4 linked regions of the Homo sapiens genome follow. The protein of the gene in region 4 purifies or fractionates together with the protein of the main gene of each other region. This does not show direct contact. Each region holds a gene or a part of one and is shown on either strand. Other genes may lie near its edges.

Region 1 (7,767 bases), on a different chromosome or scaffold from region 4:
CCTGACTTGGTCACCATAGGAGCCATCCCTGTCCGAACCACTCTGTCCACCCCCAATTCATCTCACCCTTCTAGGGCTCCATGTGTCAACCCACTCAGGTCATGCGGGAGGGGGCAGGATTGAAGGTCATCTCAAATTTTGCTGTCCAACACCCAGACCCTCAAGTGTGGCCCTTCAGATTTTGTAAATTAAGTAATTTAAACATCTTATTAAGAAAATTTGCAAACATACACAAAGTAAGCAGAATAGTAATGAACCGCCGCTCCCCATCACCCAACTACCACATTTTGCCATTCTTGTTTCATTGGCACGCACCTCTGCCCACTCCCCACCCCACCCCAACTGCACTTGTTGGAGAAGATTTCATGGCCAGCCTTTCTGACACCACCCCCCAACACCACCTACCCACCAGCAAACCCCTCCCCAACCCAGGACTGCCACTGCTCACAAATTCCAACAGTGTGATATTTGTGGCACCCATCCTTTTGTACCAAAAACATTCTGGAAATCCTTCCCAGGAAGCACAACCATTTTTTTATGTCCTTAATAGAGTGGTAACCACTGCACACATGCATAAGGGCTGTATGCACAGGTTGGTGCCCTGGAATCAGATGGCCTGGGTCCCAAACAACACTTCCCAGATGTGTGACCTTGGATAGGTCACTCAACCTGTGTTTGGATTTCCCACCCAGGAAGGGGAGAATGCTGGTAACAGGTTTGTTGTGAGCCTTTAAAACAATAAAATAATGCACGCTCTTTTCCCAGCAATGAGGAAACCTTAGAAATAAGTGTAGGGGCCAGGGGCAAGCCAACTCTGCTCCTATGCAATACTATTCACATCCTCCATTTTACAGATAAAGGGAGAGGTGCCCAGAGGCACAGTGAGCTGCCAGGGACAGCCCGCTCTTCAGGTTGGTCTCTGTCCTAAGTCCATGCACCTGGAATTCTCACTGGCCACCTTGAGCTGGAGATGACTGGAAGTGAAGAAACAAATACTCCAGAACAAACGCAGAAGAGCGGTGGCAGGTGGCTCGGCACACCAGGTATGGGTGTCCCCATCCTGGACAGGATTTCTCCCAGCACCGTGTGTGTGTGTGTGTGTGTGTGTGTGTGTGTGTGTGTCTGTGTGTGTGTGTGTGTGTGCGTGTGTGTGTGTGTTAGGATAGGGGTGCTGAATTTGATTTACAAGACAAAACAGTGTTGGGAAAGGTGTGGGGAGTGGGTACACATTCCTGCCCACTTCTGATTTGACAAATCCTATGCCCAACCTTGTATTTGGTATCATCGCCCACCCTATCCCAGCATGAGAGGCAAGAAACTGGCTCAGTAATTCTCAGGCTTTAGCAATTCAACGCCCCTACTTATCGTCCTAAAAATTTTTTTATTTTCTGACTTAAAGGAAAAAAGTAAAAAAAAAAAAAAAAAAAAAAAAAAGAGTCAATCCAGTTGCTGAGTGATGTTCAGACAAAGACAGCTGCCAGTCCATTGCCTGCGTTCACCAGCTGAGGAAGAGTACAGGCGGGGACTGGGTGTGTGTTTGGGGACGGCCTGGGCTCTCCGCTGCCTCTCCCTGGAGTGAGCCCTGTCAGGATCCCCCACCCGCCACCCTGCACTCCCCCACCACTGCAGTGCCGCGTGGGGAGGCACCTCCCTGATCCGCAGGAACAATGGGCTGGGGTGGGGGCAGGTGCGGCTTGGAGTGCAGCAGAGGGTGGGGGCCGCAGGCCCGACAGCAAGACAGGGAACCCAGCGCAGATGGTGGCTGTGCTGCCACTGGACTCAGTTTCTCCAGCTTTTGGGGCCCCGCAGAGCCAAGCGCTCGTTTCGTGGCTGAATCTCCCTTGCGTCCCGGCATTTTAATATCATCCTCGCAGGCGGCTTGCCTGTCGCTCCCGGGAAAGATGCCTGGGCCGCGCTCCTCTCCCCGGCGGCCGCTCTCGCCGAGGCCCTGCAGGTCAGGGACGCGCGGCGCCTCCATGCGCCCAACTTTCCCCACTTGGGACCCACAGGAAGACTGGAATCCTGGCCAGCCGGGCCCTCCGTGGGAGAAGCCTTGATTTACAGCCCTGGGCTCCGAAACCTGCTCGTCCTCTTCCCGCAACCCCCTTCCCCGTCCTCTCCGGCTCCCCCACCCTTCGGAGCCCTAATCACGCTCCCCAAAGAAAGCGGCCCTAGCACATCTGCAAAATGCGAGCGTCTGTCCTCCGCACTGGGTGCCTCCCCCTGCCCCCCGCAAGGAAGGGACCATCGAACCCCCGCCGCTTCACCCTTCCCCAGCCCAGTGAGTCCCTGGGGATGGGCGGGGAGGTGGGTGAGAAGCCCTTCGGCCGCAGCTGCAGCCCCCACTCCTGGCTCGAGCGTCCGGCCGGGGTGGGATGGGGCGAGGGAACAGGTCCAAATCTCCGATTTCCCCCAGGCTCCCACTCCTGCCTCGCTGAGTCACGAAAATTACCCGCTGGGGCCACCCGGCCACCCGGCGGCGGGCCCTTTACCCAGCCAGCGCCGGCCTCCGCAGCCCATCGCGCGGGGGCTGCACACGCGGGGCGGTCCTCACCCGCACGCGCGACCAGCCCCGCAGGAGGCGCCACCCGAGGCAGGGACCAACCAGGCGCCTCAGCGGGGGCTGCAGTCCCCGCCGCGGAGTCCGCACCCTGGCGGGGCGCAGAACATGTGACCCGCGGGCCGTCTCCGGTCCACCGGACCCCGGCCCCCGGCCCCGCTGCTGCTGACCCCGGCCCCGCCCGCCAGAACTGGATGCAGCGCGGGCGTCCCCACTTTTCCACGGCGCGCGAGGGGGTGCGGAGCGTTGGGCCAAGCGCGCCTCCTCCCTCCCTGCCCCGCCAGCCGCGGCCGCAGGACCCGCAGCCTGCGCTCACCTCGGGGCCCGTCGCTGCCGCCGGCCTCCTTGTCCGCCATGGTCGCGCAGCCCCGGACCGCGAGGGGAGCCTCCAGCGCAGCGCCCGTGCCCGTGCGGGTCTCTGTCCGCGTCCGCGGCGGCGCTCGGGCCGTGTCTGAGCCGCCGGGCAGCGGGAGCGCTGCTCTGACGCGGCAGCCGCCGCAGCCACGGCTCCTCCCCGGGCCCCGCCCCGGCCCGCCCGGCGCCCCGCCCCTCCGAGCTCGGGCCGGCCGGGAAAGGTCGGGGAAGGCGGGCGCGGGGAACTGCCTGGCTCCGGAGCTGCGCTCCCCGCCCGCCCAGAGCGGCCCGCCGAGGCCCGGCCTCTCCTCTCCCGGCTTCGGGACCGAGCGGTCGCCCCGCAGTCGACCGCGGCGGGGGTAGTGGCGCGCCCGGGGCTGCGCTGCGGGAGCGGATTTCAGGCCCTCGGGGCCCCGCGGCGCGTCCCCTCTTTGGAAGTCACCGAATGGCCAGGCCTGGAGCCCTTCAGCAAGCCCAGCGCGCCCGGCGCTCTCCCGAGGACGCCCGCGCCAGTCCCCACCAGCTTCTGTCTGTCCCCCAGGGTCCCAGGGGAGCGGCCCTGGGCCGGCGCAAAGGCGGGCTGGGTGGACCCCGGCGCGGGCAGGACCCAGGCCGCAGACCAAGGACCTGCGCGGGGGCCGAGCCCGGGGCACCGCCTCCAGGCCGCCTGCGGGACTCCATGGCAACTCCGGACCCAGGGAGGTGCTTGCCCCGGAGGCTGAGTCGCGCCTTCCATATATGGGATCCAGCTGGGCCCTCCTTAGAAGTCTGAGAATAACGATATTAATAATGCAAGGCTTCAGTTGTGAATGATTCATACTCCCTGTCCCCAGCTCCTCCACACACACGCGCCGCTGGCACCTGTTTGGGCCTGGCCAGGCACCCCCTGGGTCCGCGGTGTCACCACCCTGCCTTGGCAAACGAGGGCAGTAATAGGAATCCGAGGAGCACCGTCACTGGGTCGTTTCCGGGTGCCTGGCACTGTGCTACCTGCCTGGTGCTTTACCTCTATCTCCTTTCCTCCCCATAACTAACATTTTGCAGATAAGGAAGCTGAGGATCGGCAGGGTTACAATATCACACCCAGCAGGTGAGTCGCGGAGCTGGGATTCCCACCCAGCTGTAACCACCAGCATCCCTCACTTCCAGAGATGGGTGGCATTTCCCAAAGATCACCTAGGGGAGGCTTCATCGTACAATCCCGTTCTGGATGACGGAGTGGGCAGAGAGCTGCTGCGAGAGCGTTATGGATGACGGAATGGGCAGAGAGCTGCTGCGAGAGCCTGGAGACCAGAAGGTGATGGCAGAGTGACAAGTTCAAAACACAAAACTTGTCTTCTGTCTGCCTGCATTAAAAATCCCAAATGGACAGTTCCTGGCTGTGCATGAAACCACAGTCAAGTTATTTAACCTATCTGAGCCTCAATATTCTCATCTGCGAAATGGGTATAACAGGAGAACCCACTTCATAAAACTGAAGATTAGATAGACTATGCATGTAACATGCTTAGCTTGGGATCTAGCACATGGTAAAAATCATTAAGTCACTGATGGCCCCCGAGGGCCCTTCCTGCCTACGTGCCTGCGACAGCCTGCCCACAGCTCCCCCGCCCTCCTGTCTCACCCCTTCAGTCCATGCTTTGTGATCTGGTCTGTCCCCACCCTACTCCAGCTCCAGCTACAGCCGCTCTGATTCTTCAATCCCTCTCACCCACCCCTGCTTCTCTTATGCTGGTATTTCAAAGACATGAAAATGTGCTTGATGCCTGGATCACCCGTCCTCTCATTTCACCACCACCAGCAACCTAAGAACTTCTCCTTCTCATCATGGACTGCCCAACTCCAGGAAGGCTCCCCTGCATACCCATGCTGGCCAGGGGGGCCCTCCTCAGTGTCCTCAAGGCACTCGTTCCTCCCCATCAGACCAGGGCATCAGGACATTGGCCTTGACAGCCTGTCAGAAGCAGCAGAAACCCGTAGCCCCTGCACATCTGCCTCCTGCTGTGGAAGGGCCTTGGGCGCCACGTGCCCTCATGGGACTCCCAGCCACAGTGACATGAGGGTGCGTGAGAAGGATGGGAGGTGACATGCAGGCCCCAGTGCTGGGGGCAGAGAGCAGAACACTTTTGATTTGCAGGGGAGCATGAAAGGCAGCGCACACTCTGCCTGGGATTTGCCCTCACGGCCTTCATGCTCATCACACTAATTACAACGCGCCCTGCTGAGCACACCATCCAGCCCGCCAGCGAGGGGCTGTTGTGGTCTCACCTAGTTCTCATGGTGGCCCTTGCGGTTTTGCAGGAGAGGAAAAGGAAGCATTCAAAGGCTGAGGCACCTGTTCAGGCATCCTCTGGCCATCAGCAGCAAGGCTGGGGTTCAAGGCTCAGCACGCCACATCAAGGAAGGGTTCCCACCTTCCTCCCTGGAGTCTTCTTCCCCAATAGCAGCCAGAGAGAGAGCATGTCATTCTCCTGCTACCAGGTCCTACACAAATTGGCCTCCTGATGCCTCAGTGACCTCAGCTCCTTCCACTCTCCCATTCCCCCCAAAGCCCAAACACACACAGGCCCCACCTGGGGGGTCACTCCCCCGGACACATCCTTCAAGAGAATCAATCACGTGGCTTGCTCCTCCCAGAACACTCTATCTAAAACTGCTGCCTCGCCCCCACTGGGAAGTAAGTCCCAGGAGAGCAAGATCGTGGACTGTGTTGCCAGTTCTGCATCTCTGTGTCTAGAACAGCGCCTGGTACATGGCAGGCACTTAATAAATCCTTGATGCTTGACTGGCTGAATCAGTAAGTGAAGCGGGAACACAGCCCAGCACACAGACATTCTGCTGACCCCCAGGGCTCATGCCTTTCCACAGCCCCAGCTGTCTCAGGGCACGCCCAGACTCCTGGGAGGTTGCTCTGTACCAAGTTCCCTCAAGCTCCCCTCCAAAGACTCCTCCTCACAGTGCTCTCTGTGGGTACACTGCAGCACCCTCTATACCATCTCTTCTCCACCCTCCACACCCTCCACAGGCTGTAGACTGTGGTAGCTGGTGGAGAGAATGTTACACATCTCGGTTGGATACTCAAGTCCTAAAAAGTGGCCCAGCCCAGAGCCAAGTGACCACCTTCTAGTTCCCTTCCTGCTGGTCACTCCAGCTTCAAGGGCCTGCCCTCAGGTCCCCAAAGAGCCAGTGCCTCCACTGGAAGCCGATTCTCCTCTAGTTTTGCCAGGTAACCAACCCTGTCTCTTCCTACAGGCCTCAGCTTGGATGGCACTTCCTCCAGGACACCACCTAGCCCTCCAAGATCACATGAGGCCCCTCCTCTCTCCTCTGTGCCCAACCCCCCATCACTCCTATCTTAGCACTTATCACAACAACTCCAAGGTCAGTAGTATTGTTAACCCCATTGTACAGATGACCAAACTGAGATACAGAAAGGTCACTGAGCTCAGAAGCTGCAGTGCTGAGACTAGACCTCTGAGACCAGAACTCAGGTCTCTCCAGCTTCAGGTCACCCACCTCCCCCTCTAGCTGCCAGCTCTCCAAAGTGGGACCAGCCATGTCCACATTTAGAGCCCCCAGACCCTAGGATGGTGCCTGGCGCAGAGAGCAAAACATTGATGGAAAACAGCCTCCTCAGCTTCAGGCCTTTCTCATCCTCTCCGGGATCCCGTTCACCCACAGCCCCACACACGCTTCCCTGCCAACAGACTCCCTCTCTGCTCTTCAGCCCCCAAACAAACCCCCACCACATCCATTCATGCAAATAGAAGTCAGAGTCCAGAGGCAGGCCCAGCTAACTGCACCAGACAGCCAGGGCACTCTGTCACCTGCTATAACTACCAACTGTGGAAAGGGCTGGACATGATGCACAGCATGGGTAGGGGAGGCAGCTGAGTCCTCTGGCCCCCAGCTCAGAAGAAACTGAGGATAATTGTTGATGGACCAGATGCTAAGGGCAGTGAGCCCTGGGGGATGCATCAGGACCAAGAATGAGAAAAGTACAACAGGAGGAAGCAGAGAGCATGGGGTCAGCTGGACCAGGGCTCAAGTGGGCTCAGCTGCTCCCTGCCCACCTCAGGGGACCTGGGACATACCTCTCTGGGTCTGTTTCCTCACCTGTCAAAAGGGCCCAGTAATGATAGGTATCATAATTATAAGAGATCATATATGTAAAACATTCCATTTAGAGTCAGCCTATATATGCCACTGTTAATATGACTTATTTAATTTATATATTTGAACACAAAAATGCCATTTCCTTGTATATTATAAATTACAGAATGGATCCAGGCAAGATTTTCTTGGCTGATAAAGACACACAGAAGATATGAGTAGCTTTTTCCATTTTAATTTTTCTTTTATGTTTTTGTTAAGCTTAAGAAACACTGATATGAGTTCATATCTGAACTTTGACATAGGACACTGCCCGTCAAAGCTGCTTTGGACTTTAGGATATGCCAGCGGAACGTTGTCCATGAACTGAATATCATAAAAGAGACTAATTCATAACAGGACCAAGATTCAGATTTGCTAAAGCAACATAAAAACTTGCAGAGAAAACCTGGGCAAATGTCAGCCGCCTTGACCTCCAACTGTCAGTGCATTTTAAAAAGCCAGCCTTACAGCTGAATCATGGTGGCCAGTGTATACATCCTCCCCACCTCACTGGTCTTCCAGTCCATCTGGTGTGAATCGGTCTCTCCATTAACATTCCAAAACAACCTTCACATGTACAATGTGAGCTGCTGAGCCACTCTTTCAGGCAAAAATTCAAGGGCCAGAGGAAATTATTGCTCCAAATATCACCATCACTCAGGACTGCAATGTAAACTTTAGAAATGCCTTCTCAGGTA
Region 2 (7,022 bases), on a different chromosome or scaffold from region 4:
ACATAAACCAATCTACTTAAAAATGCTTTGCAAAGCAACAAATTAGTGTCCATGTTATACACACATCACCACTCACCCACTCCTCTGTGAAAGATTGCAAGGGTGCCGTCAGCCAGGGCTACTAACACGATTCCCTTCACGTGTCTGCAAACAGGAAAGGGGAGTTCAGAACTCTCCATTCAGGAATACAGAAGGGACCACATGCTACTGAACTAGTTCAAGGCCTCACAAAGGGCCAATCTGTGATGAGTTAAGGAGCTGACACCTGAATATAAATGAACACACCACTTTCTTCACTGTGGATGTCCTGCTATGAAAAAATGTCAGCTGAACTAAATAAACAGTATGAATGGTATCTCAGTTATTTCACTTTCTGGCCCAAGGTTCTCCTCTCATCACAGACAATCAACACAAACTCTAAAGACCAGAGACATGCACCTTGAGTGGAACCAACAGAGTCAGCCCTGTAGGCTCAGAGATAAACTGTCTGATTTTTTTACAGTGAACACATAGAAAAGAACTAGTAATCAATGCCCCAATCAACATATTTACAAGCCATAAAGAATATTCTAAAATAAACATAACTTAATAGGTATTGGTTATTTCCTGCAGTGCTAAATAAATCGCAGTATGGTGAGGACTCAATCAAGCAAGTTATCCTTTCTACTTCGTTTTCTATTATACAGTTTCATTCTCACTTAACTTCTCTAGTTCCATAAAAAGGGTTAAAAAAACAAACAAATTGGATACTAATTTAGTCGTGAAACATGTATTAGCTTTCAAAGTCTTAAAATCTAGTTTATACCAAAATGCATAGTTTTAACAAGAAGAATTTCCAAAATAAAACTTACACAATACTGAGAATCGAATCTTTAAGTTTAATGGAATGGAGACATTTCCTCCACTGGGCTACAGATGAATGGACATACAAACTGTAAGAACAAAGTCAACACTGGTAAGGCATAGAGAACATCAAGACATTGCATATATCTAACAATGATCGCGAAGTTCATTCAGAAGGAAAGAAGAGTAACATACAAATTTTAGGAAAAGGTGCTGCTGCTTTTGTGCAATGGTCAGAAAAGAAAAATGAGAGTGAGGGTAGGCCTAAGGTAAAGAAATAGGCTGCTGAGCAAAGAAAAACATATGAAGACTGAAAAGCAAGAACTAGTGCAATGCACAGTCAGGTTCACACACTTAGTCCTTGGGCAAAACTCTTTTTTTGAATTGCCTTACCTCTCTACTACACTGATCTATAACTTTTGGATGACAGAGTGGCCCACATAGGGAGTGGCAAACTATGGCCTACAGGCCAGATCCAGTCTGCCACCTGTTTTAATCCAGCCTGCAAGCTAAGAATACTTTTTACATTTTTAAAAGTGTGTGTGGGGGGGAAATCAAGGGTATTTTACGACAGGGGAGATTTATATGAAATTCAAACTACAATGCCCATAATGCTCTACTGGAAGAGAGTTACACTAAGTTTGCCAACTCTTCACTTTATAGTATTGGACTCATATGAAAAAGACATACTACAGGTTGAGTAACCCTTATTTGAAATGCTTGGGATTTCTGACTTTTTCAGATTTTAGAATGTTTACATCATACATAACAGTTGAGTATTCCTAATTCAAAAATCCAAAATGCTCCAATGAGCATTACCTGCCAGCATCATAACAGTGGTCAAAGAGTTTTAAATTTTGGATTAGAGATGCTCAACAGTAATCTTGCTTAACCTTTGTAAATGCACAATTTTGTAAAACTCTCCACACAACCGGAAAGTGAACAAACCATATAATATTAGTCATCATCATCTGACTTTGCAGATTGTGATTTGTTTTACCTATCTTAGTAAAAAATTCACTAAAAGTTGGGATTGGGCCTTCCTGCAGCCAAAATGTTGGTTTAATCCCTGTTTTCCTGCCCACATTCTAGCCTACATAAATTAAATATTCTCTGTCTTTGTGCTGTTCAGGATCTTCTATTTCTGGAGCACCTCGATTTTAAAATTTTACATACCTCTTCTTCCAAGAATATTATAGAAAGGGAACATTCTGTGACAAAGAAACATATGGCTTACTATTCAGAACCAGTGCAAGTCCAGTTTATGTGGTAGTTGCAACATAACATCAAATTGTGTGTATATATAAAATTCTTTGCATTAATCCACACTTTTTGTATTTGTTTACCATATTTTACTTATCTTCTGATTTCAAAAGCAAAAGTAAAACAACATATTCTAATGTTAAAAGCATTGACACCTACCAGCCATTTTGAGCTCCAAGCCACATAGTTGGTAAAAGACTACTCATTTTCTGGGCTTCTTCTCTCACCAAGTCTTGTTCATTTGGCAGTACTGATATTTGATCTTTATATGCATCTGAGTCATTGCTGGAAAGGGAGGGCAAAAGGAAAGAAATCTGAGTATACTTAACTATCGTTATAGTTTTCAGGGACTGAATCCTTCTATATTTAAGTTTGTTCATTTGTTTATTATTTATTTATTTTTTAGAGATAGGGTATCACTCTGTCACCCAGGCTGGAGTACAGTGGCACAATCAGGGCTCACTGCAGCCTTGACCTCTCAGGCTCAAGTGATCTTTCCACTTCAGCCTCCTGAATAACAGGGACTAGAGGCACACACACTATCACACCTGGCTTCAACTTTTAGTCAAAAAAAAAAAAAGAAACCACCAAAATTCCAGAAAAGCCAAAGTCAAAAGCTTACATCACATATTTCAACAATTGTACCAGAAATAACATTAACAAACTAGGAAGCCCAAGGAGCAGAAAAGATAATAAGACATGGTAATGAAATACAGCAGTTAATATTCAGACAATTACTATGGCTGTCTCTTATTTTGGGTTTTGTCATAGTTTCTTCTCAAGTGAGAGAGAAGGGAGGGATACACACATACAAATAGTAGGGAGAAATATAAAGAATGACCTAAAATAAATTAATAAACTGAAATATGTTTAATATTCTATCACAAAACCTTTCCTTTGAATTGTCAGGGCATATTTAGTAAAAGATATATAACCAGGCTATCAAATTCAAACATGACTTATTCTTAAATTAATAATTCAGGCCAGGTGCGGTGGCTCACGCCTATAATCCCAGCACTTTGGGAGGGTGAGGTGGGTGGATTTCTTGAGGCCAGGAGTTCAAGACCAGCCTAGCCAACATGATAAAACCCCATCTCTACTAAAAATACAAAAATTAGCTGGGTGTGGCAGCACATGCCTTCAATCCCAGCTACCTGGGAGGCTGAGGCAGGAGAATCGCTTGAACCTGGAAGGCGGAGGTTGCAGTGAGCTGAGATTGCACTGCTGCACTCCAGCCTGGGTGACAGGGTGAGATTCCATCTCCAAAAAAAAAAAAGAATTAAATATTAACCCATTTATGCCGGAGGTTGCAAATTTTTTTTGTAAAAAATCAGACCTTAGCGATGACCTTGAGCAGTAGGATATGAATAACTCCCACAAGCTTAGCATTCCAATAATGGACCACTAGGCATAAATGGGTTATTAATTAATCTTTCTTACTTTATACACTAAGAATATTAAACTTTAAAAAGGATCTAGTTTAAAGAGACTCTCATCTAGAGGGGATCTAGAAAAGGCAGGAAAGAAAATAAAATAATTCACTAAATGGGCCTAGATTAACCAACCCTTTAACGGAGGAGCCTAAAACAAACAGTTTTCTTTGGTTTGTTTGTTTTCTGAGACAGAGTCTTGTTCTGTTTCCCAGGCGGCAGTGCAGTGGTGATATCATGGCCCACTGTAGCCTCCAGCTCCCAGGGCTCAAGCAATCCTCCCACCTCAGCCTCCTGAGTAGCTGGGACCATAGGTGCACGCTACCACGCCCAGCGAATCATTAAGTTTTTTGTAGAGATGAGGGTCTCACTATGTTGCTCAGGTTGGTCTTGAACTCCTGGACTCAAGCAATCCTCCTGCTCAGACTCCCAAAGTGCTGGGATTATAGGCATGAGCCACTGGAACTATCTGAGTTGTTTTTTAATAAAATATTTGCATGAAAACTAAATTCAAAAAGGTCATCCACACCCATGTGGGAAACTTGTACAATGGCAGATTTAAACAATGGCCAATTTTGCTGATAACTGGAGTGAAAATTAGAGTAGGGGTGGGATTAAAATGACAAAGAATTACTTATAGAATGGAAGACAGTAAGTACAAAAAAAAAGAAAAAAAAACAGATCAGAGGAGAAAATGAACAGAAAGATTTTGACTAATATATAGTCACACACCTGGTAAAACCATTTTGGAAAATGATGGACAGAATATATGGTGGTGGTTCCACAAGATTATACTACTATATTTCTACAGTACCTTGTGCATGTTTACATACACAAATACTTACCGTTATGTTCCAATTATCTACAGTATTCAGTACAGTAACATGCTGTACAGGTTTCTAGCCTAGGAGCAATGGGCTATACCATATGGCCTAGGTGTGTGATAAGCCATACCATCTAGATTTGTGTAAATGCACTCTATGATGTTCACACAATGATGAAATCACCTAATGACACATTTCTCAGAACATATCCCCATTGTTGACTGATGCATGATTATACTTTTATAGATAAGATTTTTTTTTTAAATTGGAAGGTGTACAGAAGAAATGGGGGGGAATATCCAGCGAGAATGATGGAGCGGGAATACATGAAATTATCACAAGAATAGGTATCTTTTAATCCACCACAGTGACACTAATTAGTGGAAATCTTTTGACTGTTTGAGATTATTTTGGTTCCTTTTATTTGTGCACTTCACCCAGTTGCCTAAGTTGATGACCCATTATTATACCTCGACTGATACACTGGGGAGAGGTCTTCTGGGATCTGAACTCCCAAAGGATCTGTAAAGACATGCTCTGTGTAGACGCCAGTTTGGGAGATGTCCACTGTGTCTTCAGCTGACCCCGCATTCCCTTCTGTAGCTTCAGTTGCTTCTTCTGCTGTTGGAACATTTTCATCAACCTCACTATTTTCTGCTTCCATTTCTACAAAGTAAATAAAACACTATTCCAAGTCTGGGCTTTTCTCCTCCAATTATTTCCCCACACAAACCCCTGTTATAGAATTCCATTCCATCTACCCACTCCTTCACACTGTACCATGAAATTAAGAATTCTTCATTCCATTTAACAGTCATTACAGCATTTTTTTTTTTTTTGAGACAGAGTCTTGCTCTGTTGCCCAGGCTGGAGTGCGGCGGCGTGATCTTGGCTCACTGCAAGCTCCACCTCCCAGGTTCACGCCATTCTCCTGCCTCAGCCTCCCGAGTAGCTGGGACTACAGGCACCCGCCACCACGCCCGGTTAATTTTTTGTACTTTTTAGTACAGACAGGGTTTCACTGTGTTAGCCAGGATGGTCTTGATCTCCTGACCTCGTGATCCACCCGCCTTGGCCTCCCAGAGTGCTGGGATTACAGGCGTGAGCCACCACGCCCGGCCTACAGTATCTTCTTTCAAGTTCTTTCAACCTTGTTACTTAAGATCTAAATTAAGTCCATAATGAGGCATCTGAGTGTAGCCTTAGACTCTATACAGATGGCAGGTAAAGAGAATGGATATACCTGGTGGTTTATCCATCACTGGAGAAGCACCATTTGTACTAGGGGAAGTGGCAGCTCCCGTCACACCTTCTGCAGAACAACCAACCACTGTGATGCCTCCTAACAGGCTGTCTGTCTCTGCTGAGCTGTTGCTTGTCATACTTCCACATAAAGATGCTTTGTCTACCTGACCAGATTCTGAAAGATCTTCTCCTGCAGGGTAGTCTGTTTCTCGTGCACCTGAAAAATAAATCTTCTTGTAACAGCAAAGTAAACTTCTATAAATAACATTTTTTTTACTAAAACAATTACAGGTTTGAAATGAGAGTTATGCAGGTGAGATGTACAGGTAGTTGAATACAGGTAGCATTAAATTTACATAAACAAATCTTCACAATATGGGAAGGTAACTTAAAAAATTAAGAAAATACTTCTATTAACACAAGTGCAAATAAACATAAAAATGTCAGAAAATAAACTTTTTTTTTTTTTTTTTTGAGACAGAGTCTTACTCTGTCGCCCAGGCTGGAGTACAGTGGCATGATTCAGCTCACTGCAACCTCCGCCTCCTTGGCTTAAGTGATTCTCCTGCCTCAGCCTCCTGAGTAGCTGGGACTACCGGTGTGAGCCACCACGCCTGGCTAATTTTTGTATTTTTGGTAGAGACAGGGTTTCGGTATGTTGGTCAGGCTGGTCTTGAACTCCTGGCCTCAAGGGATCCACCAACCTCAGACAAGTCCTAGGATTACAGGTGCGAGCCACCACGCCTAGCCAGCTTCTGTTCTTAGTGAGCTCCTCAGCAGCCACAGGTTAAAAACAATCTATTATATCTGACAACATCAGCCAAAAAAAAATTCTTTTAAATCATCAAGACTACTGCTACTACTTGAAGTATAAGCTTCTATCCATTACTGTTAAAAATTAAATGCCCCAAGTATATAGGTTGATTAAGATATTAGTAAAACATTAAAAACTAAGCATTTATAATATAAAAATATTTACAATATAAAAATAAATCTCATTTTTTAATTTAGAAAATTGTTTTATTTATATCACACTAAAAACTTTTATTGCAGTAAAAATAATATATATATAAACAAAATTTGCCACTTTAACCATTTAAAAGTGTACAATTCAGTGGCACTAATATTTACAATATTGGCATTAATATTTATAACATTGTGTAGCCATCACCATTATTTTTTTTTTTTGGCGACAGAGTTTCACTCTTGTTGCCCAGGCTGGTGTGCAATGGTACAGTCTCGGCTCACTGCAACCTCTGCCTCCCAGGTTCAAGCAATTCTCCTGCCTCAGCCTCCCAAGTAGCTGCGATTACAAGCGCCTGCCACTGCACCTGGCTAATTTTTGTATTTTTAGTAGAAACGGGGTTTTACCATGTTGGCCAGGCTGGTCTCGAACTCCTGACCTCAGGTGATCCGC
Region 3 (7,022 bases), on a different chromosome or scaffold from region 4:
AAGTCAGTTTTAGGAGAAATAGCCTTTCAGTGGTAGTAAGTTTAAAAAAGATGACTTCCTGAAGCGGAAGCTTGTGAGACATTTAAGATGACTTTGCGCATGTTAGAGTTAAAAACATCCCAAGGTTGTAAACTGATTTCCTGCAAAGATCTTAACAACAACAACAACAACAAACTAGGCTGCCTGCCACGGGTGTCTGAAGTATCATCTTGGCTCAAGCTGGGAGAATGGATAAAGGTTACACTGTTCATTTCTGCCCTTCACACAGAAAAGAAGATAATTTTATAGGTAAAATTCGTGCATATCTTGATTCTAGCATACTGCTGATTCCTGTAGTTTCTGGGGTCAGTACTCTCAACTATTGAGGTGGAACAAAAATAAGTAGACTTCATTTCTTGAGGAAGGGGATCTGGAGAAGTAGTTCTGCGCTAGAGCAGAAAATGCCTTCAGTCTTGTGGCATGGGCTGGATGCTGTTCTGAGGATAATGCATTTCCAAGGGAGATATTTTTGGCAAATAGCTTTTTTTTCTTTCTTTTCAAAATTCTCTGTTTTATTATCAGTTCTCACAAAAGAGTCGGAAAGGTTAGAGGTAGACTGAACTGAATGGCAAAAACATTTTGCGCTCTCTTTACGTTTCACTGCTGTAAAATATTTATAGTATAAAGGGCCTGTATTGCACTGAATTTCTCTCATTTGTAGCTAGTTGCCCTTTCAATGTTCCAAAAAAAAAGGCTGTAAATAACTTATTTTATTTATTCAATTAATTTTTTTTTTTTAATTTTTTGAGATATAGTTTCCCTCTGGTCACCCAGGCTGGAGTGAAATGATGCAATCTCGGCTTACTGCAATTTCTGCCTCCCGGGTTCAAGCAATTCTAGTGCCTCAGCCTCCTGAGTAGCTGGGACTGCAGGCACGTGCTACCATGCCCGGCTAATTTTTGTGTTTTTAGTAGATATGGGGTTTCACAGTGTTGGCCAGCCTAGTCTCAAACTCCTGACCTCAGGTGATGTGCCCACCTTGACCTCCAAAAGTGCTGGGATTACAGGCGTGAGGCACCATGCCTGGCCAACTTAGTTATTTAAAGATAATCAATTAGTATATTTTATAAGCTAGACTTAGGAAAACGGTTTTCAGCTGGGCATGGTGGCTCACACCTGTAATCCCAGCACTTTGGGAGGCCGAGGCAGGTGGATCACGAGGTCAGGAGTTCAAGACCAGCCTGGCCAAGATGGCGAAACTCCGTCTCTACTTAAAAATACAAAAATTAGCCAGGCGTGATGGCAGCCTCCTGTAATCCCAGCTACTCGGGAGGCTGAGGCAAGAGAATCACTTGAACCTGGGAGGCGGAGGTTGCAGTGAGCCGAGATGGTGCCACTGCACTCCAGCCTGGGTGACAGAGCGAGACTCCATCTCAAAAAAAAAAAAACCCCCCCACACACAAAACCTGTTTTCTTGAATCATGGTTGTTTTGTTACTGATAGGTTCAATAAGTAAATATATTTATTGTCTGTTGTATTCTTTATTAGGCATTATAAACACACCGCCACTTTTTAATTTTTATTTCATTAATGTTTCCAATTTTTTTTTTTTTTTTTTTTTTTAAGACAGAGGCTCGCTCTGTCATCCAGGCTGGAGTGGAGTGGTGCAGTCTTACCCCACTGCAACCTCCACCTCCTGGGCTCAGCCTTGTAAATAGCTGGGACTACAGGCATGCACCACCATGCCTGGCTAATTTTTGTATTTTTTTTGGTAAAGACAGAGTTTTGCCATGTTTCTCAGTCTGGTCAAGCACTCCTCCCGCCTCGGCCTCCCAAAGTGTTGGGATTACAGGCATGAGCCACCATGCCTGGCCTATTTCTAATATTTTGGTCCACATTGGTGTTAGACCAACTGTCCACATTAAGTTTTCTTGGAAAAGATGAAGTAAATATTGCAACTGGCCTATGTATTTTTTTCCCTATTTAGTATATTTCTTTGACTAGTTCAACTGATAGAATTCCAAGACTTAAAAAAGTCAGGCTCTAAGGCTGGGTCCAGAGGCTCATGCCTGTAATTCCAGCACTGTGGGAGGCCAAGGCTAGTGGATCACTTGAGCCCAGGAGTTCAAGACCAGCTTGAGCAACATAGTGAGACCTTGTCTCTCTATAAAAATACAAAAATTAACTGGGGATTGTGGCGCATGTCTGTAGTCCCAGCTATGAGGAAGAGTGAGGTGGGAGGATTGCTTGAGCCCAGGAGGTTGAGGCTGCAGTGAGCTGTGAGTTTGACACTGTGCTTCATTCTGGGTGACAGAGCAAGAACCATGTTCAAAAATAAAAATAAAAAGTCAGAGTCCGGGTGCTGCGGCTCATGCCTGTAATCCCAGCACTTTGGGAAGCCGAGGCGAGAGGATCACTTGAGGTCAGGAGTTCGAGACCAGCCTGACTAACACAGTGAAACCCCGTCTCTACTAAAAATACAAAAATTAGCCGGGCATGGTGGCGGTGGCCTGTAATCCCAGCTACATGGGAGGTTGAGGCAGGAGAATCACTTGAACCCGGGAGGTGGAGGTTGTAATGAGCCAAGATTGCACAACTGCACTGCATCCTGGGCGACAGAGTGATACTTCATCTCAAAAAAAAAAAAAGAAAAAAAAAGTTAGGCTTCCTTTTCTGTTTTTTTTTTTTTTTCTTTCTTCTCTTTTTTTTTTTTTTTTTAAGAGATGGAGGCTTGCTCTATTGCCCATGCTGGAGTGCAGTGGTGCAATCTCGGCTCACTGCCACCTTTGCCTCCTGGGTTCTAGCAATTCTCCTGCCTCAGCCTCCCGAGTAGCTGGGACTACAGGCGCACACCGCCACGCCCCGCTAATTGTTCTTTTGTATTTTAGTAGAGACGGGGTTTCACCATGTTGGCCAGCCTGGTCTCGAACTCCTGAGCTCAGGCAATCCGCCCGCCTCGGCCTCCCAAAGTGCTAGGATTATAGGCGTGAACCACCGTGGCTGGCCACTTACTTTTCTTTCTATTGAATTTGAATGAATAATTTGGAAGACAGTATCTTTACTTCATACCAGGAATGCTGCCAGTGAAATTTCTTGTTTGGCAGTTCATTATCTACCTATATATTTAATTTTGCTATTGTTTATAGAGTTCTTAAGATATGATTAAATGCTAGCTGGTTAAGAAATCATTTAGAAATGAAACAGAATTGGTTGTTACTCCAAGTTAATAAGTTGCTTGTCAACATAAATCCTACCTGGTACCCAGTTTTCTTAGGAACCTTGCTTCCATGTTTATCCTTTTCTGCTTAGTATTCTAAGTACTCCTTTTTTACCTTACAATTTAGTCTTAAAACACAACACAGTCAAGTCTTTCTTTTGTAACCTGTGAGATACCTTCTAGCCTTTGTGCTGTTTTTCTTCTCTTTTTGCTGCCTGCCTTCCTGACTGAGAGTGGATTTCCTCACTAAGGCTCTGCCCTCTGATTTTTCACTCTCTTTTCTTTTTTGGTTTTACTAGTGAAATTTTGTCTTTAATGTCTCTTTCTTTTATGTCTTTACCGATCACTCATAGATTTTTTTTTCCATATGTATCCAGTTCCAACCTTTCACCTAATGTGAACCCCCAACTCTCAGTTGCTCAGCCAGCCCTTCAAGACTAGGAGTTCAAAACCAAACTTGCATCTTCCTTCCCAAACCAGCTTTCCTCTTGCAGTTTTCTGCAGCAGGATCCTTCTGCTGTTTAACTTTTGCCTCCTCCCTTGTTTCCTAGCACCCAATAGTTGGAAGATAGTCTGTCTTCAAAATTTTAAACTACATTTATGTCCAAACCAGTGGCTTTTCCTTTTAAAAAAATTTAAAGATAATATGTGCAAATCATTTTTTTAAAATTCAAACAGTATTTAAGAGTTTCAGTGAAACATGCATTTTCCTTCTACCCTGGTACTTAGTTTTACTCCCCAAGGGCAATCACTTTTTACTGGTTTTTAGAAATATATCCTTCCTGAGATACTTATGAATATCCAAAAGTGTGTGTGTTGTGTATATCACCTTTTATATATCCTGTCTCTTTACGTGCATGCATTTTACCGTATAAACTGTTTTCTACCCTGCTTTTTCTATTTGACCTATTTTGGAAATGTCATTTTATTTAGAACTTCCTCATTTATTTTAACAGCTGCATAATTAGCAGTAAAACTTATGTAAGCAGTCCCTTGTGAAGGGCTGTGTCTTTTTGCGATTATATCCGGTGCTATAGTGTACATCCTTGTGTGTGCATCTTGGTGTGCCTGTGCTACGTATTTCTGTAGGATAAATCTGTAAAAGTGGAATCACTAGGTCAGAGGGTATGATCCATTTTCTTTACTTATTTATTTTATTTATTTATTCATTTATTTTTGAGACAGAGTCTTGCTCTGTCGCCCAGGCTGGAGTGCAGTGGCATGATCTTGGCTTACTGCAAGCTCCGCCTCCCGGGTTCACACCATTCTCCTGCCTCAGCCTCCGGAGTAGCTGGGACTACAGGCGCCCGCCACCCACGCCTGGCTAATTTTTTTGTATTTTTAGTAGAGACGGGGTTTCACCATGTTAGCCAGGATGGTCTCGATCTCCTGACCTTGTGATCCACCCATCTCAGCCTCCCAAAGTGCTGGGATTACAGGTGTGAGCCACCGCGCCCGGCCCCATTTTATTATCTTTATTTGCTTGGATCCTTCTTAGCTTCTTCAATGTTAAAGATATTGACAGTTTTCCTCTTACTGAAATTTATAAATCCATTGACTCCCTTGATATTATTGCCCTGGCCTGACTGATTCTTCTCTCTCCTTTCTCTTCTCACCCCATGTTGAGGTCCCCAAGGTCACACCCAGTTTTGATGACTCACCAGCATAGAGTTGTACTTGTGCCTATGATTTATTGCGGTGAAAGGATATAGAGCAAAATTGCAAACGGAAAGGCACCTGGGGTGAATTCCAGGGGAAATCCAGTGCAAGTTCCAAGGTCGCCTCCCAGTGGAGTCACATAGGATGTGCTTACATCCTCCAGCAAGGAGTTGTGACAACACTTGTGAAATGTGGACTGCCAGGGAAGCTCATCAGAGCCTCAGTGCCTAGGGTTTTTACTGGAGGCTGGTCACATAAGCACCCTCACACATATCAAAAAATTCTGGTCCCCCAGAAGGAAAGCAGGTGTTTAGCATAACCATATTATTTGCATGAACAGTTCAGGTACAGGAAATCCCCGTTACCAGTTAGGTTGGTGGGTGCCCTTCCCAAATCCCAAGTTCCCAGACACCAGCCAGGGGCCTGCCTCGTAAGGAGGCCTTTCCAGGACAGCAGTCAGGCCTGCCAATGTTAATTCTTTTCTGCATACCTCCTAATTTTAGAAACCACCGAGCCTTTGCTGCCTGACCTGTCCTGCTTTTCGATTTCTTTATCTACTTTGATATCTTTACAAATGATCTTTACCCTGACTTTTAAATGTGTGCTCTGGCCATTCACCTAGCGTGTGGTTCTGAGTCTCCAAGTCTTAGCAGATTTGCTCTCAGATGCTCTGCCAACGCTTCACACCAAGTATTACAAACTAAACTCGTCATCTTCCTCCTGAAACCTGTCTCCCAGGCCAGGCGCGGTGGCTCACACCTGTAATCCCAGTACTTTGGGAGGCCGAGGTGGGTGGATCACCTGAGGTCAGGAGTTCGAGACCAGCCTGGCCAACTTGGTAAAACCCCATCTCTACGAAAAATACAAAAAAATTAGCCAGGCGTGGTGGCAGGCACCTGTAATCCCAGCTATTCAGGAGGCTGAGGCAGGAGAATCGCTTGAACCCGGGAGGCGGAGATTGCAGTAAGCCGAGATCACGCCATTGCACTCCAGCCTGGGCAACAAAAGTGAAACTCCATCTCAAGAAAAACAAAAAACAAAAAACAAAAAACCTGTTTTCTCCCCAGCTTTGTCATGTATTTAGTGGCCTTATGTAGACAGTTTCCTTTGAAACATCTCTTGGACTTCTCTGCTCTTCCAGGGCCATTGCCACTGACCTGGAATGTGTCCTTATCGTTTCACGCCAGGCTTATGGCAGCAGTCAGTCACCCAGATGACCTCCTGACCTCTGGCTTATTTCACCCCCACTGGACTGTTGTTCCTAAACACTTCTTTCGTATGTCACTCTAAAATCTGACCCTGGCTGTACCTTTCTTTAACTACTCCCTGACTGCGTGCTGAGAGAAGATGGGTCTTGTCTTTTCCTGCCTCTCTGCTTTTGTAAACTGCCATTTCTACCTGAAGTGGCAACTGAAATCATATCTTCTTCATAAACTGTCTTTGGCTACCTCAGTTAGAATTCCTTATCCCATTTTCCTGAAGCATTTCTTTGACTCTTCTTTACTGCTCCCCCACCCTTTTTTTTTTCTTTGAGACTGAATTTTGCTTGTTGCCCAGGCTGGAGTGCAATGGCCCGATCTCGGCTCATTGCAACCTCCGCCTCCTGGGTTCAAGTGATTCTCCTGCCTCAGCCTCCTGAGTAGCTGGGATTACAGTCATGTGCCACCATGCCCGGCTAATTTTGTATTTTTAGTAGAGATGGGGTTTCTCCACGTTGGTCAGGCTGGTCTTCAACTCCCAACCTCAAGTGATCTGCCCACCTTCGCCTCCCAAAATGCTGGGATTACAGGTGTTAGCCACTGCGCCTGACCCCCATTTTTTTTTTTTTTAAAGATGTTGAATTGGTCAGGGTTTGTAGTTACAAGCAACAGAAGCCAACTCTTTAAGCAGAAAAGGAATTTGCTAAATGATAGTGCAGAGTTCTCAGAATCTCTAGCAGGATGAAGAACCAGGCTTGGAGAATAGGTAGCCACAGATACACAAGCATACTGTAGGACGGTTCCCATGAAGAGGCATCTGTTGTCACCACTGGACACAGATGGTACTGTGTCTCTGCTACTCTACCAATGCCACTGCTGTCTCTGACCCCAGATGTAGCTCCCTCTGACCCTGGATGCAGCTCCCTCTGACCCTCGATATAGCTGCCCCTGACCCCGGATGTAGCTGC
Region 4 (7,439 bases):
CACTATTTTGTCCATGGTCATGCACATCTCTCTGACCCAAAGTCTGAGTGTTTCCACCCCACCAAGCTGCCTTTCTGTTGCCCAGAATTCATCCATTGAACATCAGATTGAGAGTACTGAATCAGCTTGTCCTTTCAGTAGCTGAGGGAACACGGAACCCCAGATATCTTATCATGGTGGAACTAGAGGTCCCTTTGGTTCTTTTATTCTATCTCACAAATAACGAAACGGAGGCACGGAGATGTGACTTACCATTGTGGTTCTGCCAGATGGTTATCAAACCAAAAAGCACTGAAAGGGGGTCTGATGAATTGTCCAACCCTTAAGGTGAATGCTTTCTTTGCTGTAGGCTGCATAATCTGCCCATATATTGGAAGGTAAGCTGGGGGAGAGGGGCAGGGATGGACCTGTCTGGGGATAATTCCTTTGTTGCAGAGACTCGAGCTATAAATCTTTCTTGCTTTGAATCAAATCACAGGATTCCAGCAGATGGGGGGCAGTGTTTATGCTATTCCCGATGACAGCAGCCCAGGCGACCACACCTTCAGAAGGACAGGGATGGAGCTGGCCTTACTGAGTCCCTAGAGGGTGGTGTAGAATGCACCATAGCTACTGAACAGACCAATCTTGCCGCAACATGCCCCCCACAAGCCTTTTCTGGCCTCAATACATGCAAATCATCATCACCATCATGATCATCATCCTCTCCCCATCCCCCACTTAGCACTTTGCACTTTTCTAAGTGCTTCCCAACAGTGCTGCATACTATAATGCATACAGTGCTCAGATAGGCCAAGTTACTTGCTGGTTAGAGCAGGCACTGGGTTATGGTCATTTTTGTTTGCCACATACCAAACTTCTGCCATGTGCCAAACCCTGTGTTAGGCCAGAAGTGGTGCTTCATGGAAGAGACATGGTTTCTGGCAGTGCCCAGGTGCCAGGAAAAACAGTGCCATCCTTGAAGCCAGCAGTGAGCTGGAGTCAGAGCTTTGCCCACTGGTGACTTATGAACATTTCCTTTTAGGGCAGACAGGGAGGGTCTTGTCCCACAGTGCCTCCCACTCCTCAAAGGAAGGGTGGCTCAGCTTCCTTAAGCTCAGAAGCACTAGGGACTAACCCCTCTTTCCTGACACAGCCCAACGCCCTTCTGGGTGGTTCTAAGAGGCTTCCCAACAAAAGGTTCGTATGAAGGCCCACCCTGAAGTCCAGCTGTCCCCAGAGTAGGGCTAAGGAGCCACCATACTCTCGTGTCATCTCAACCCTGCATGTCGTGTGGCTCTTCAGTGATTGCCACTCTGAAAGCTGTTCTGACTGTTCCTCACACTGCAGCCCCTCTTCCAGGGACACACATTCTTCCCCCCGCCGGGACCTTCCCTTTCTAGTCAGGCTGGTGGAGTCTCCCGCCGGCCACAGGAGGATGCCCACGCCTGCCTGCTCCCTGAGTGCCAGCGCCTGCCCACTACCAAAGGTTTCCTGCGGTGCAGAGGAGAGACTGTACTGCCCTTCCATCTCCCCTGGCCCCTTAGAGTCCAGTCCCAAACTGCCGGCACCTGCTCACAGCAGAATCCCTACCCTGTCTGTGCTGTCCCCGCAGTCCTCCTGGCCCTAGGGTGATCACACCACCTCAGCTCTTCCTGCAGACATGTGCTCAGGTGGGCAAAAGAGAATGAGAAATGCACCTCTCCCGTGGGGCTGAGCTGACTCTGGCTGTTCCCTAGGGGCTTAAGAACACCTGTTCTGGTTGAGTTTGCAGCCATCGCCTGTCCCCCAAAAGGGAAAGAGTAACATTTCACCTTGAAAAGAAACAGGGAGGGGATGTTTCTGAGGTGCAGGTGTTTCATGAGAGACAGGTACATTTTCTAAGGTGTGTCTAAAATGCAGCCCAATCCTATTCTACGAGAGAGAAGTTCCCGTTTGAACAAGTTCCCGTTTGAACAAGAGGATTCGAGGGGGGTCTCACCATCGTAGCCACGCACTAAGAAGCGATTGTTTTAGGGACACGGAGGTAGGACCCCCACTCAGCCAGGTGACTCTGGGACTGTGGAAGGTCCACTTACGACTCTGTACCTGCCCCAGCACGGGCTCAAGGAGTTGAGCCTGCACACATTACTTAGAAAAAACCTCTGCAAACGGGTAAGTACATCGCCCGCGTGGGCCGTGGCTGGAGGCTTGTCACCTGCTTCAGGGACTTCCTCGGGAGCCTCTCGCCTGCCTCTTTGCCTGGAATTAACGAATACACACTACAGCCCCTCATTCCCTCCAACACGAAGGAAAGGTGTAATCAGATCCCGAGAGTCCCGCAGAAGCGTGGAGCCTCGCGGTGCGGTCTCCCTTTTCTTTCCCATGCAAACCCACTTAGCACCGGCGCGCCCCTGTTTGCCCGGGCAGAATCCACCGCCCACTCCTCCCGAGTGGAGAGTGGAGACGAATCTACGCCCAGGCCCTGCACCTGCCGCGCTGCGGAGTTTGGAGGGGGCGTGGATGGTGCAAGGTCAGGGCTCCGTGTGTGACCCCGGCGGTGATAGGGCTGCTCGGGGTCGGACCACGCGGCGCGCCGGGCTTCCCTGCAGCTCGGCCGGGCAGGGGGCACATGGGCACGGTGGGAGTCCCGGCGGAACCCAGGCCGGCCACTCACCATTCTGGGAGGGCGACGGCGACGGCGACGGCGACGACGGCAGCAGCGGCGGCGTTGACAACAGTAGCAGCAGCGCCGAGAGCGCCAGCGCGCAGCGCATCGTGTCGTCGCCTCTGGGCCGGGAGCAGGTGGCTGCGGTGCCGGCGGAGGATCCGCGCGTCCGGGCGGTAGGAGCGTGGGCGCCGCCCGGGGAGGCCTGTGGGTGGCTCCGGAGGCCAGGCTGTGGCCCGGGGCTCCCGAGTCGCGCTGCGGCGGCTCTTCCTCCCTGCCGCTGCAGCAGAGCCGGGCTGGGGCGCAGAGCCAGTGGCAGAGGAGCGGCGGCGGCGGCGGCTGCGTCCTGGGCGGCGTCTGCGCGGCTGCGGCCCCACTGGCGGCTGCGGCTACTCCTGGCCCGTCCCGTCAGCGCCGGCCCCCGCCCCCGCCCCCGCCCCTCCCCCTCCCCCAGGAGCCCGCCAGCGGCGGCGGCCGGGCCGGGCGGGGCCGGGGCCGGGGCTGGGCGGGCGCTGGGCCGTGAACAATGAGCAGAGGAGGAAACTCCGCCCTGGAGCGCGACGGGCGGGAGGGCCGGCGGCCTCCGCGCCTTGGGGGGCTGTGTGTGCGCGGGGGCCAGGGCGGGGGGCTCCTGCGGTGCAGCCGGGCCCCGTCCACAGGTGTCCCGAACAGGTGTGTCCCCCCGAGTGCTTCTAAGTGGGCCCGGCGGGATCCCCCAGCACACCGCCGGGGCCCTCGCACTACGAGCAAATCCGGAGCGGGCGGACCCCCAGCCTTGCGTGGTAACTGATAACCATTCACGGCCTCCCGGGCTGCTGCGCGTTCTGCAGCGACCCCGGAGAAGCTCATCTCCCACCTGCCAAGTGCAATTCACCTGCCTGTGGGGCCCCCATCCCGCACGGCTTCTGAGCGGGGTCTCTCTGCAGCTAGGTGTGCAGCGGGCAAGCTGGACTAATTCACTCCTTCACCTCTCCAAGGGTAGGTTCCTTACCTGTGAAATGGAGATGATGGTTAAAAAACAACAGCAACAACAATTTCAGGGATGAATGTGTGCCAGGCTTTACATATATTAATTCTTTTACTCTTCATGACAACCATATTTTTAGCCTCATTTTGCAGACAGGGCAATTGAGTCAAAAAGAGGTTAAGAAACTTCCTGAGGCCACATAACGGGTAAGTGGCAAACCTGCCTCTGAGAGAAGTTTGGAGAAATACCGTGCACCGTGCCTGGAATATAGTAATTGCTCTGCAAGGAGTGGTTATTACTCTTATTCCTGCTATATAAAGAACAGCTATAAAGATTAGGGCTTTTGGGTCAAAACAGGCTGGGGCTCAAAACCTAACTGTGCCAATCTATTAATTGTAAAACCCTAGGCAAGCTATTCTCAGTACCTCATTTCTTTTTATCTGTAAAATAGGGATAATAACACCTACCTCAGGGGGTTGTTGGGAAACTTAAATGTGATCTTACAAGATAATACTTAGCCTAGGGCCAGGAACACAAAAGTCTCAATGAATGAAGTAGTTCGCCCTCCAAGTGAGGATCAGAGATATTTGCACACTGGGGGTGGGAGTGGGTGTTGGAGAATTCCGTAAACTGAGTTTATCCGGTGAAAGAACAAAGAAGTTCCTTTCCCCTCCCCCGCTCCCCTCCTTTTTTCCACCCCCAAAGCTGCCTGGGAGACGCAGACCCCAGGCCCGCCTGAAGAGGAGGCACATCGGCGGAGCCGGGAAGCGGAGGGGGCGAGGGGTGATTAACCTTGGAACCCGGGTACGGCGTAAATTTGGCTCACGTGACTCCGGGGTTGCTAATCTGGAGTCTATCTGCCAGATGGGGCTGGGTGGAGGGGTTTTCTCCAGGATCTAGCCGCGTCCCGGGCACAGGGGACTCCGTGAGCCCCTCAAGTCGGCTGCAAGCAGGCGATGCCTGCAGGGCACTGCGTCCCTGGAGCCGCGAAGGAAGCGCTGGAGCCCTGGCTGGGGTTCCGTGGCAGCCGGCCTCAAGCTTGGGAAGGGCTGACGGGGTTGTTTTCATCAGGAAGTTTCTGCAGGATCGTTCTGGCCCCGTTTTCCACACCGCATATGGGAAAGACAGAGGGTGTTCCCTATGAATACTCTGGGATATTTGTGTGTGTGACTATCTTTGATGTTTTTTTAGTACTGTTCCCCTGATATCATGTCAACAAAAGGCTTGTTTCTCTTCTGAAACCAAGCAATATATATATATATTTTTTTTTACACTGGGATTTTAAAAAATGTGTATCGCACTCTGATTTAAACAGTGTTTTTGCACTCAATCATTCAATTTATCTAAAAACTCAGAAGCAATCATGTTAACTTTATAAAGAGAGAGCGTATATTTTGAAGCTTAGGGCATTTTAAATTCACATGATTTGGGATTGGTGCCATTACAAGATCATGCAAAATTAAAATGAGAGCAGACATCTGGGCTTAGAGAAGACATAGAAAAGTTACAATTGTGCTGGACTCTCCCCAGTATCCAACAGCCCCCCTCAACTTATGCACAACGTGGCTTTCTGGAATGAGGCTGGCTGGGTTTTGAGGTCACTGGTGGCCACTGAGATGAGCTACCCCCAGGTAACTGGCCTGTGCCTTTGGCCCCATTTAGCATTGTGCTCTAACTAGCAAGCTCGCCAGCCCAGAACACCTGAGCTTATATTTGAAACCCAAAGCACTTTATGGGTGCTGTTTTTGAAGCTTTTCATCAGGAAGTTTCTGCAGGATCATTCCTTCTGGGATTTGTTGCATTTTGGTTATTTGTATACATGCGTTAGCTCTCCTAGCAGACATTCAGCTTCTTTAACATGGCGTCTTTCTTATTCATCCTTTACTTACTCAGACCACCAAGAACAGCACATCACTTTTTTTTTTTTTTTTTTTTTTTTGAGACAGAGTCTTGCTCCTGTTGCCCAGGCTGCCTCCGCCTCCCAGGTTCAAGCAATTCTCCTGCCTCAGCCTCCTAAGTAGCTAGGATTACAGGCATCTGCCACCACACCCGGCTAATTTTGTATTTTTAGTAGAGACGGGGTTTCTCCATGTTGGTCAGGCTGGTCTCGAACTCCCGACCTCAGGTGATCTGCCCGCCTCGGCCTCCCAAAGTGCTGGGATTACTGGCGAGAGCCACCGCATTTTTATCAAGCAAATGGTTTTGCTGCCCCATGGGCACAGAAGCCAATACTATGAAGCACTAGCTTTGGAAAAAGCAGCGGCTTTATTTGCAAAACTGGTCAGCAAAGAGACAGGAGTGAATTCAAATCTGTCTCCCCAGCCAGGCACGGTGACTCATGCCTGTAATCCCACAACTTTGGGAGGCTGAGGTGGGCAGATCACCTGAAGTCAGGAGTTTGAGACCAGCCTGGCCAACATGGTGAAACCCCATCTCTACTAAAAATACAAAAATTAGCCAGGCTTGGTGGCATGCGTCTGTAATCCTAGCTACTCAGGAGGCTGAGGCAGGAGAATTGCTTGAACCTGGGAGGTGTAGGCTGCAGTGAGCTGAGATTGCACCACTGCACTGCAGCCTGGGCAACAGAGCAAGACTCCATCTCAAAAAAAAAAAAAAGAAAAAATGTCTCCCCAGTTTGAGGCCTGGGGTAAATTTATGGGATCAGAAGGCAATGAAAAGATTTAGGAATGTTGGCTTGGCAGAATCTGATTGGAGGGCTTTAAATTTGACCATTTACAGAAAGGTATGTTGAGGCGGACTTTTAGCCCCACATCTTCCAAGCCATTGTACGTCTGGCTTCTGAGAGAGTTCTGGCATTCGGATTCCCATCAAGTCTCTTAGTCTTTTTAGTTCCAAGGGAGAATTCATTGTTTTGGGGTTGTTGTTAGAGTTCCAACTATTTTCTATTGCTTATGCTGGAGCAACGTGACATTTTGTTATCAACAGAGCAAGCCCAGTTTGGGCCTTTCCCTCAGTTACAACATCATACATATAGATACAGATACAGATCTATAGATACAGATCTTGAATGCAAATATGAATGTCACCTGGAAGATATTACGCAGGAACCCATGGCACAAGGTTACACATTTTTCCATGGCCCCTGGCTGTCAATGTTAGGGGCCATAATTCTCTGCCCCAGGTGCAATTTGGTGATGTTGTTTACCTAAGTGCATCCTTATGTGCAGACTCAGTAAGTCCTCTTGACCCTCATTCTAAGTAATACTGATCCCCAGTCACAACATCTAGGGGTGAGACAAAGCGTCCGCTACCACATCCCCCAAGAAAAGATGAGTGCACACATGTATCCATCCTGGAGCCACAGCTCCTACACATAAGGAGCCAGGGATGCTCTTACCTGGGCTTTCTAATCACTGACCTCTGAGTTCCTTGTGGGTCGAAGCAGTGTTTAATTCATCTTGGAATCCAGTGCCCAGTATGGTGGTGTCTGACCCCAAACAGGTGCATGACATTCAAATGCTGCATAGATGAAGAAGTGGTTGGATTTTCTCTCCAAGGTTGGGTTACCCCTGACTGCCAAGTGGTGCGGTTCTATGAATATCAGCTGGGACTCAAGTTGGGCAGCTCACCCCAAAGTCATGCCTTTATGTATTATTATTCAATAATATCTACCCTAATAGGCAGAGTGTGCTAGGTTCGGTGCACTGTGCTGAGAATGCAACCCTGTACACAAACATGACTAACATGTAGTAGGGGCTGTAACACATGGCACGGGTGGGCATGTGGGAAGCGGAGAGCAGGATGGCTCAGCCCCACCCGGGGAGGTCAAGGAAGGCTCCAGAGGAGGGAACTGGGTTTTGGAGGAGTTGAAGGACTTCACCAAGG

The links.
Region 1: the proteins of PODXL (region 4) and HSPA12A purify together in Homo sapiens (co-immunoprecipitation; 3 studies listed by BioGRID and IntAct, with this or other methods). This does not show direct contact.
Region 2: the proteins of PODXL (region 4) and SPAG9 purify together in Homo sapiens (co-immunoprecipitation; 3 studies listed by BioGRID and IntAct, with this or other methods). This does not show direct contact.
Region 3: the proteins of PODXL (region 4) and LGALS8 purify together in Homo sapiens (affinity purification with mass spectrometry; 3 studies listed by BioGRID and IntAct, with this or other methods). This does not show direct contact.

Annotation. Positions count from the first base shown.
Region 1 is NC_000010.11:116,739,554-116,747,320, forward strand, and holds the start of HSPA12A (heat shock 70 kDa protein 12A), read right to left. Parts: upstream 3,014-7,767; 5' UTR 2,917-3,013; coding exon 2,877-2,916; intron 1-2,876. UniProt on the Homo sapiens protein: Adapter protein for SORL1, but not SORT1. Delays SORL1 internalization and affects SORL1 subcellular localization.
Region 2 is NC_000017.11:50,984,847-50,991,868, forward strand, and holds part of SPAG9 (C-Jun-amino-terminal kinase-interacting protein 4), read right to left. Parts: intron 5,823-7,022; coding exon 5,604-5,822; intron 5,027-5,603; coding exon 4,831-5,026; intron 2,392-4,830; coding exon 2,266-2,391; intron 933-2,265; coding exon 852-932; intron 145-851; coding exon 77-144; intron 1-76. UniProt on the Homo sapiens protein: The JNK-interacting protein (JIP) group of scaffold proteins selectively mediates JNK signaling by aggregating specific components of the MAPK cascade to form a functional JNK signaling module.
Region 3 is NC_000001.11:236,526,968-236,533,989, forward strand, and holds part of LGALS8 (galectin-8), read left to right. Parts: intron 1-7,022.
Region 4 is NC_000007.14:131,553,625-131,561,063, forward strand, and holds the start of PODXL (podocalyxin isoform 1 precursor), read right to left. Parts: upstream 3,005-7,439; 5' UTR 2,736-3,004; coding exon 2,636-2,735; intron 1-2,635. UniProt on the Homo sapiens protein: Involved in the regulation of both adhesion and cell morphology and cancer progression. Functions as an anti-adhesive molecule that maintains an open filtration pathway between neighboring foot processes in the podocyte by charge repulsion.